3 linked regions of the Homo sapiens genome follow. The protein of the gene in region 3 purifies or fractionates together with the protein of the main gene of each other region. This does not show direct contact. Each region holds a gene or a part of one and is shown on either strand. Other genes may lie near its edges.

What was found.
Region 1: the proteins of IGF2BP2 (region 3) and NBEAL2 purify together in Homo sapiens (tandem affinity purification; one large-scale study listed by IntAct). This does not show direct contact.
Region 2: the proteins of IGF2BP2 (region 3) and MAPK13 purify together in Homo sapiens (co-immunoprecipitation; one large-scale study listed by IntAct). This does not show direct contact.

What each region holds. Positions count from the first base shown.
Region 1 is NC_000003.12:46,986,110-46,989,767, reverse strand, and holds part of NBEAL2 (neurobeachin-like protein 2), read right to left. Parts: intron 1,779-3,658; exon of another isoform or gene 1,721-1,778; coding exon of another isoform or gene 1,691-1,720; intron 1,407-1,690; exon of another isoform or gene 1,323-1,406; intron 1,100-1,322; coding exon 1,011-1,099; intron 927-1,010; coding exon 798-926; intron 684-797; coding exon 602-683; intron 509-601; coding exon 387-508; intron 258-386; coding exon 175-257; intron 100-174; exon of another isoform or gene 1-99. UniProt on the Homo sapiens protein: Probably involved in thrombopoiesis. Plays a role in the development or secretion of alpha-granules, that contain several growth factors important for platelet biogenesis.
Region 2 is NC_000006.12:36,142,615-36,145,027, reverse strand, and holds the end of MAPK13 (mitogen-activated protein kinase 13), read right to left. Parts: 3' UTR 507-2,413; downstream 1-506. UniProt on the Homo sapiens protein: Serine/threonine kinase which acts as an essential component of the MAP kinase signal transduction pathway.
Region 3 is NC_000003.12:185,642,516-185,644,880, forward strand, and holds the end of IGF2BP2 (insulin-like growth factor 2 mRNA-binding protein 2), read right to left. Parts: 3' UTR 615-2,365; downstream 1-614.

The sequences.
Region 1 (3,658 bases), about 140 Mb from region 3:
AGCCCAAGATGTCTTCTCTTGTCTCTGTCCCTAAACTCTTGCTTGGTCTTTGGTTCTCCCAGTCCTGCATGCAGCCACCACCAAGTGGTTCCTGTGTATGGCAGGATCAAGGAACGACAGGAAGGGGCCTAGGTTTGGGGGTGGAGCCAAGTGGGGGCAGGGGCGGGGCCTGACCTTGGAAGAAGGCGCTGAATTCCTGGGGCAAAGCAGCAGGAGGGAACTTGTATTTGCTCTTCTCCTTGGAGCTGATGACTTCCCTGGGGGCAGTGAGGCCAAGTACATCAGCCCGGCTCTCACCACTCCTGGCCGTCACCCCTCCTTGGGCCCAGCGCGGCCATCCTCTCCCCACCCTCCTCTGGGTTCCCTTCCTGTGGGCTGGGTCTCACCCACTGCGCTGGCGCCGCCAGGTTTGGTAAGGGTCAAAGAGGCCCTCGCAGAGAAGCAGAGCATGTAGGGCCACATTCTCCAACTGCGTGCCTCGGCCCTGGGGTGGTGGGCATCCTTTCAGCTGTAGGTGTGGGGAGAGAGGGTTAGCCCCGCCATGGCTACCGCCTGCCTCCCTGCATACACCCTCTGCCCCCCAAGGTAGAGGCCACTTCACCTCCGCCACCAACTTGGTCAACAGTGCCAGCACTCGGGGCACTAGCACTTGGCCCCGGCCTGCCTCTATGTTCTCCAGGTTCCTGGGGGAGTCAATGATGAGAGAGGTCACAATAATACACCATGCCCCTCCTTGTCCCCTCTCCCTCTGGCCCACAGTTCTAGGCCCCTGCTTGTAGAGTGGACAACAGAGACACCTGCAGAGAATGATGAAGAGCTTGAGCAGCAGGAGGGCTTGCTCCAGGTCAGCCTGGTGCAGCTGTTCGGCCAGCACATGCAGCTCATCCAGTGGTAGCAGCGGGACCTCTGCACCTGCCTCCTCTGGCCTGCAAGGAAAGGGGAGACACGGGTGCTGAGGACCCCTCAATCTCCCTGCTCTGTCCCTGCCCTCAGTGCAGATCCAGCCTCACCTTCGTGGCTCCAGAGAGGACAGTGAGATGCTCTTCTTGAAGGCACCTACAAAGGCCTTCAGCCACTGCTGCAGGTAACCCAGGTCCTTCTGTAGGCAGAACAGGGGAACAGTGGTGGGGGGCAGGAGGGATGCAGTAAACAGGGCAGGGACAAGGGGATGTAGACAGAGGCGAAGAATGAATGGAGGTGGACAGAGGGCATGGACAAGGGGTTAAAGGCAGAGTGGAGGGTGTGGAGAAGGGGAGTGGGGGACGGGGGAGGGAGGGCAGGACATTGGAAGGTCAGCATCAGAGAGTTAGGTACATACTGACCACTTTTCCAGGCACCCCACTGCTTCTCTCAGCCTCCCAGTTTCTGCTCCCACCTCCCTAATGCCTGCAGTCCTAGGCAGGTCTGACACAGCCAGGGGAGGGGCGTAAGTGGGGTGTGGCTGTGGCCCACACTGGTGCTAGGGCTGGAGAAGGTGTCCCACACAGCAGCCACCCCCTACCAAGAGCCTTGGGCTGGGTCCTCATCTGCCATCTTCACCCAGCCCAGCAGCCACCACCTTCAGTAGCCTTCTTTAACTGTGGATCCCAGGACACACGTGTACCATTAGACAGGCAGACCCAGACATGCGCACATCCTCATGTGCGGCCCTGCCTTGCCCCGGGAACCTCCACCCACCCTTGCTGGTTACCTGGACCCCAGGCCCCAGAGCTGGTTCCATGGGCAAGAGGGGCAGTGGCTAAGCCCAGGTCTAGGCGCTGCCAGGAAAACTTTGGTGTGAACGGGAAATGTCTCCTCCCGCCCCGGGGCTGGGGCAGGAAGCGCAGAGTCACGGTGGGGGAGGGGGACCGCTTCCTCCCGGCAGACCGCAGGGATGTGGGGGGGCCGGGGCACCCTGGGCCCCAGTGAGAGAGGCTGCAAGCGACCTGGCCTGCACAGAGGGTGGGACCTGTTACAGAGGGGTGGAGTCACCTGTCCTGGGTGGGGCTTGTGGGCCAAGACTAGTTTTACAAGCATGAGGTTGGCGCCTGGAAGAGCTCTTATCCAGGTGAGGGTTCTGATCCTGCTGCTGCAGTACCCTTCACTTAAGGCACCCACAGCTCCCTGACCTGCGCGCAAGGCCTCAGGCCACAGGGGTCGATGTAGAAGACTCAGCCATACCTTTGTCCCGCCCCGCCGCCCGCCATGTCCTGGCCACCTCATCTGAACTCTGCAGTTCTCTTCGCTCAGGAACACAGCTGATAAATCCTAGCCTAGCCCGTATCTGCTCTAATCTCTAAGCCCCTCCCAGGGGCCAGGGGTGGGTTGTGGCTTATACAGGAGCTCCTCCAGGCTGGCCCCATATGGAGCTCCTAACCAGCTGAGTCCAAAAGGCAGCCTTCTTTCCTAGAGTCAGAGAGGTGGACAGGGGGAGCTAGAGTGGAAAAGGATGAAGAGGCAAGGGACACATCACAGTCAGCACTCAGCAGGCCTCAGGCTGCTCCCCAGGGGCCATGGGCCTCATACCCAAGGACCTCCAGAACTATCTTTGGATGGATGGCTAATTTTTGCAGCCTATGGGCCCAGACCACGGGCAAGGCCTGAATGGCCCCAGGGCAAGAGGCCTGACTGCAGCAGACCTGAGCCAGATCCCCAAAAAACCTAGGCAGAGCAGCCGTCCACCCTGTGATTGGGGAACTCCCTGGTACAGTTTAGTGCAGATCTGAAGCCCAGACAACTCAGAGAGGTGCCAGGGCCACCATGGTGCAGACCCACACAACCATGACATTTTGTCTGTCAGTTACATTTATTGACCTCTCCACCCTCTCCTGCTGGCAGCCTCCTCCCGAACAATCAGCAAGGAGCCCAAAATACCCAGATCCTGAGACAGCAGAGGTGGCCAGGGGCCCTGGACCATTTCTTCTGAACCTCTCCCATTGCAGATGGGGAAACAGGAGGCCCCACAGGGGATGCCTTATCTACTACTTTGTCTTCAGTGTACCTTTGAGGATGCTAAAAGCCAGACCTTAGTTCTAGGCCAGGACCACTCATGATTGCTAGCAAGCCAGCCCATGAGGACCATGCGGGCCCCGATCCTTGCCTCAGTGGCCCCACAGAGACCCCTAGCTGCCTTCAAAAATGTCCCAATACTGTCTTCCTCTCTTCTGCCCCTCAGTCAAGCTAGTCACTCAAAATGTGAGTCTTCCTGCCAGCTGCAGCTCTACTGAGCACCTGAAAGCCCAAATTTGACCGTGTCTAACCCCTCCCCATAAAGGCTCAACTGCTGAGCAGCATTCCAGGCTGCTGGTCCAACCAGAACCTGCTTCTCCAGCTTCCACCTCTCCCCCTCTGTGGTTCACATCCTCCTATCCAGGCCTTTTCCCACCCTATGCCCCACTGCCTTGTGTGACTTGGGCTTTTGGTACTTGAGCAGGAACCTCCCACCCTCCTGGTGGCCATCACCTTGATCAGCCTTCCCAGCACAGGGGTGGGTCCCTCAATCTCTACATACTCCTAGAGTATGTAGATAGTACTTTCTGTCCCTAGAACCACACCCTTGGCCTGTCCAGTCCTGTAAACTTTCAGCAGATTGGGCTGAGCTGGGTTCAGGGCTGGGACAATCAAGACAGCCTTCAGGGGCTCTGAAAGGGGATGACGAGGTCTCCAAAGCACAGTATTA
Region 2 (2,413 bases), on a different chromosome or scaffold from region 3:
TCTGCCTCCTGCCAGATCAGTGGCGGCACAAGATTCTCATAGGAGCACGAACCCTATTGTGAACTGCACATGCAAGGGATCCAGGTTGCACGTTCCTTATGAGAATCTAATGCCTGATGATCTGAAGTGGAACAGTTTCACCCAAAACCATTCCCCACCCAAAACCTTTCCATCCATGGAAAAGTTGTCTTCCACAAAACCAGTCCCTGGAGCTAAAAACGTTGGGGAGTGCTGCCCTAGCAAAATGCCCCAGTCAGGTCCATTTCTACCCAGATGGTGAGGTTGGGCGGTCCAGAGGAGCGGGCCCTGATGAGTGTGTGGGCGTCCAGGTGCAGTGCTGGAAGTTTCCAGCCTGGCTCCATGATCATAGAGGGTGGGGCTGGGGGGTTTGTTAGGAATTGACAGAGGATACCTAAAGCCTCATTTCAGTAGCTAGAACAGCCTCATTCCAATAGCTCATAACTGGGGTCCACAAACTATAGAATTCAGGGGTCTGTGCACTTGGATTGGAATAGAATACAACTTTATTTTCAGTCATTTCTATTTCCTTGGTTATGAACAAAGGTAGCAAAGTGCAGTTGTATCAGCAGTGCCAATAGAAATTACAGAGTTTTTCATATCCCTTTACAGTTTGCCACAGGTATCTATCTTAAAATATTGTTTACACTCATCTCTCTTCAGTTTACCATTGTTTAATAGGCCTACCCTCGATCTTTTTATTCAATATGTTAATAAAGAAACCTATACACATAGTATCACGTTATACATTTTAAAAATATTTTGACAACTGTATATAAATATAACTAGCTTACTTTGTAATCCTACATATTTTATGTGTATGAAAATATTATTCTGAAATTAGCCAGGCATGGTGGTGCATGCCTATAGTCCCAGCTACTTGGGAGGCTGAGGTGGGAGGATCACCTGAACCCAGGGAGGTCGAGGCTACAGTGAGCTGTGATTGCACCACTGCACTCCAGCCTGGGTAATGGAGTGAGACCCCATCTCAAAAGAAAAGAAAAGAAAATATGATTTTGAGAAGCGATCCATGGCACAAAAAATGGCCAAGAGCCCCTGACTGAGAGGGGCCCTGTTGACACTCACATGCCACCCGCCCAGAGTGAGGGCAGCTGCCCAGCTGAGCAGGGACCCCGCAGGAGGAACCAGAGCAGGAGAATCCCTGGCACCACCCTTGCTCCAGTACACACCCATGGGTGCTCAATGAAGAAGTGAGGACAACTTGCTGCCATCTTCAGTTTGATGGAATGGCCTTAGGCCTCTGCTGCCGATTGTGAAATCATCGGCCTCTTACCTAAAAGCTCAGGAGGATTTAGGGGGAATGCAGATAGAGCACATGAGTTCACTGTGTAATGAAGGAAGGGGAGCCTCCCAGCATTAGATCTTAGGGAATTGTTCAAATTTAAGGAAGCAAAAGCCAAGAGTTGGGAGGAGAGGCAGGGAGAGATTCCTCCCTCCTCAGCTGTAGCTATAGCATTGCTTGGGGCCATGGAAAAACAGTTTTCCACACCCTAGCAGACAGCAAAAGCTATTTCAATGTGCCAAGTGAAAGTTGAGCCATGCCCTCATCCAAACTAGCCCCCAGCCTCACGCAGGCAGCTCCGGGCACCCGTGCACACTGGGTTCACCCTTACGGAGCTGTTCCTCCATCAGGCAGCTCTGGGCACTGGTGCACACTGGGCTTGCCCTTACGGGGGCTATTCCTCCATTTCTGTCTCCCCTTGTGCTGCCCCTCACTGGGGGCAGCACCACCCCAATCCACGCCAGGCAAGCCCTGCCCTGGGACACCGCTGCTGTCTGTTTTCATGGATGACTCAGGCCCCAGCAAAGATACTCTTTGTTCCTCAAAAGAGGGAATGGAGGGTACACTTGCTCTTAGGAAATGTCCCCCACCTTGCAGTCTGGCTTCCTGATCTCTCTCTGTTAAGATCTTTTAAGCCACCCCATCAGCCACAGAACGAAGCGCATCCACCAAGAATACCTGAGCCCACATCTCCCCCTCCCTCGCCCCGCCAGCTCCTCTGCCCCCCACAGCAGGAGAATGGACTTGTTTCCTATTACACAGGCCATGTGCCCACTGGGCAAGACCCAAACCCGTGGAACCCCCACTCCCTCTACTCCCCACCCCCTCCACCCCCCACCTTGCACTGCTGAGCACCTCCACCGCCTTTTGAAGAAACTTCACAGATTTGAGAAAACTCTGTGGGAGGGGCTGAGGTTTAATTCCGGAGTGGGGATGGCCTAGGAGGACACCAGAGGATGAAGCGGGGGGTGGGGTCTGGGAGTCTGAAATAATAGAGATTTTCAGGAGAGCAGCTCAAAGGTACAGCCCAGGGCCGCCCACTTCTGCTTCCTGCTGGGCTCTCTGCCACCTTCCATATGACATTGGCCTGGT
Region 3 (2,365 bases):
CTACAGAGAAATATCTTGTGAAAGGAAGTCAATTGATGCCCCAAACTTCATTATTGTCTTATTTGAAGGAAGTGTCACAGCCACCCATACCTTCAGCAACCACCACCCTCATCAGTCAGCAGCCATCAACATTGAGGCAAAACTCTTCACTAGCCAAGAGTACAACTTGCCTAAGGCTCGGATGATCGTTAGCATTCTTTAGCAATAAATTATTTTTAATTAAGATATGTACACTGTTGGGCCGGGCACAGTGGCTCACGCCTGTAATCCCAGCCCTTTGGGAGGCTGAGGCAAGCAGATCACGGGGTCAGGAGATTGAGACCGTCCTGGCTAACACAGTGAAGCCCCGTCTCTAGTAAAAATACAAAAAATGGCCATGTGGGGTGGCACATGCCTGTAGTCCCAACTACTCGGGAGACTGAGGCAGGAGAATTGCTTGAATACACGAGGCAGAGGTTGCAGTGAGCTGAGATCGTGCCACTGCACTCCAGCCTGGGCGACAGAGCGAGACTCTGTGTCAAAAAAAAAAAAACAAAAAAAACCCACTGTTTTAGACATAATGCTATTGTACACTTAATACAGTGTAAACATAACTCACATGCAGTGAGACACTAAAACGTGTATGACTCATTTTATTGCAAAGTTCGCTTTACTGTGGTGGTCTGGAACTGAACCTGCGACGTTCCTGAGGTATGCCTGCACTTACTAGTGAGCTTCCCGTGGAGGCGTGAAGTGCCTCTTCCCGGAACTGCCGGGCATATTATCCTCCCCCTTTCCTCCACTTAAAAAGCAGCTTTGCCTGGCCAGGCTTGCAGTTCCTTAAGGATAGACTGGTCTTCTCTAGCTTGACATGCAGTCGATCCATCCCTCTAGCTCCGAGGTTCGGAAACTTCAGTGCGCACAGCAATCACCCAGAGGCCTTGCTGAAAAGGTTGCTGGGCCTCACCCCCAGGATTTCTGATTCAAGGTGGACCCCAAGAATCTACATTTCTAACAAGTTCCCAGATGATAGCTGATGCTGCTGGTCTGGGGACTACACTTTGACCACCGATCTAGTTTAGCTTCTCCCAAAGACTTTCCTGGGCAAAACCAGCTTTCTCAGAGTAGCTGTGTGGATCCAGGTCACACCTACCGCCTGTCTGCCCAGGTCCCTCAGAGCTAGGACTCAGCTGACACCTGGGATGAGGCAATGCCTAGTAAAATAAAACACCAAGACACCAGGATCTTGTTAGCTGGATATATTTCTGTTTTTTCTTTTTTTTTCTTTTTTTTTTTTTTTTTTTTGTCACAGAACACTGTTTGCAGTAGAGGAAACTGGCATTGCAGTCTGGTGGTATAATGGCTTGTCCACATAAACCAGTACATGTTCATCCTTTAGCGCAAAAAGCCCTAATGGCGCGTACCCTATTAAAATTCAGGACATCTCCAATATTCTCTCTCTCTGTTTTTCTTTGTCATCTTTTTTTTTTTTAAATAAACATTTTCAAGGTTTGTCCAAAAGAAGGCCATATAGGTTCTTGGCTAGCGGAAGACAATTCAGAACAGCTGTTGCACACTTGGACTGTCACCTTCTCCAGGCTGGCAGTTGATATCTTATTTTTTTTCCAACTCATTTTTATTAAAAAAATAAAAAAATGCTCCAACTATCAGCTTTACAAAATCTCTAAGGGAAACACAAGAGCAAGGTGCTGAGGTAAAAACACCTGAGGTAGCTTCTTCTGTGTGTTTTTCTCGTTAAAAAAATCTGTGAATTTAACGCCCTGGGCCAACAACCTTGGTAAATTTCTACTTTCCTCCACATTTTTTTTTTTTAAAGAAAGGAATCATTTTGCTGAATATTGATGGCTTATACACCAAAATGCAAAAAGACAAAATACATTCTTTCATTGTGGAATTTTTTCTTTGTTTGGTTGATTGGTTGGTTTGGTGGGTTCCTGTTTTCCTCTTCCAAAACGCTAGGACAAGTACCATTGACTCTTGTTCTTTTGAGTAACCAAGTGTAAGTTGAGGCTGGTTTGTGTGTTTCGCTTTTGTTCCTTTTGTGTGATGTGATACTCAGAGCACTGCTTTGCCTGGGGGGGGGGGGGTGCGTAGATACGGGATTGAGATGGAGGGATGAGGAAATTCAAAAGAATGGAGATGGAGAAGAAGGGGAGGGGAGGGAGGGGAGAGATAAACAGAGAGAGACAGAGAATTATATAGCAGTATGCAAAAAACCAGTTTAAAACCTGTGAAGCAAAGAGAAATGGGTGTATGAGCTAGACAGGCATGAGGAGTGACAGAGTTTCCTCTTCAAGGAGACGGTATCCCTTCTGTTGACATACACAGGTGATCCAGAACTGCCGTGAGTGTCCTTCCGACGAGA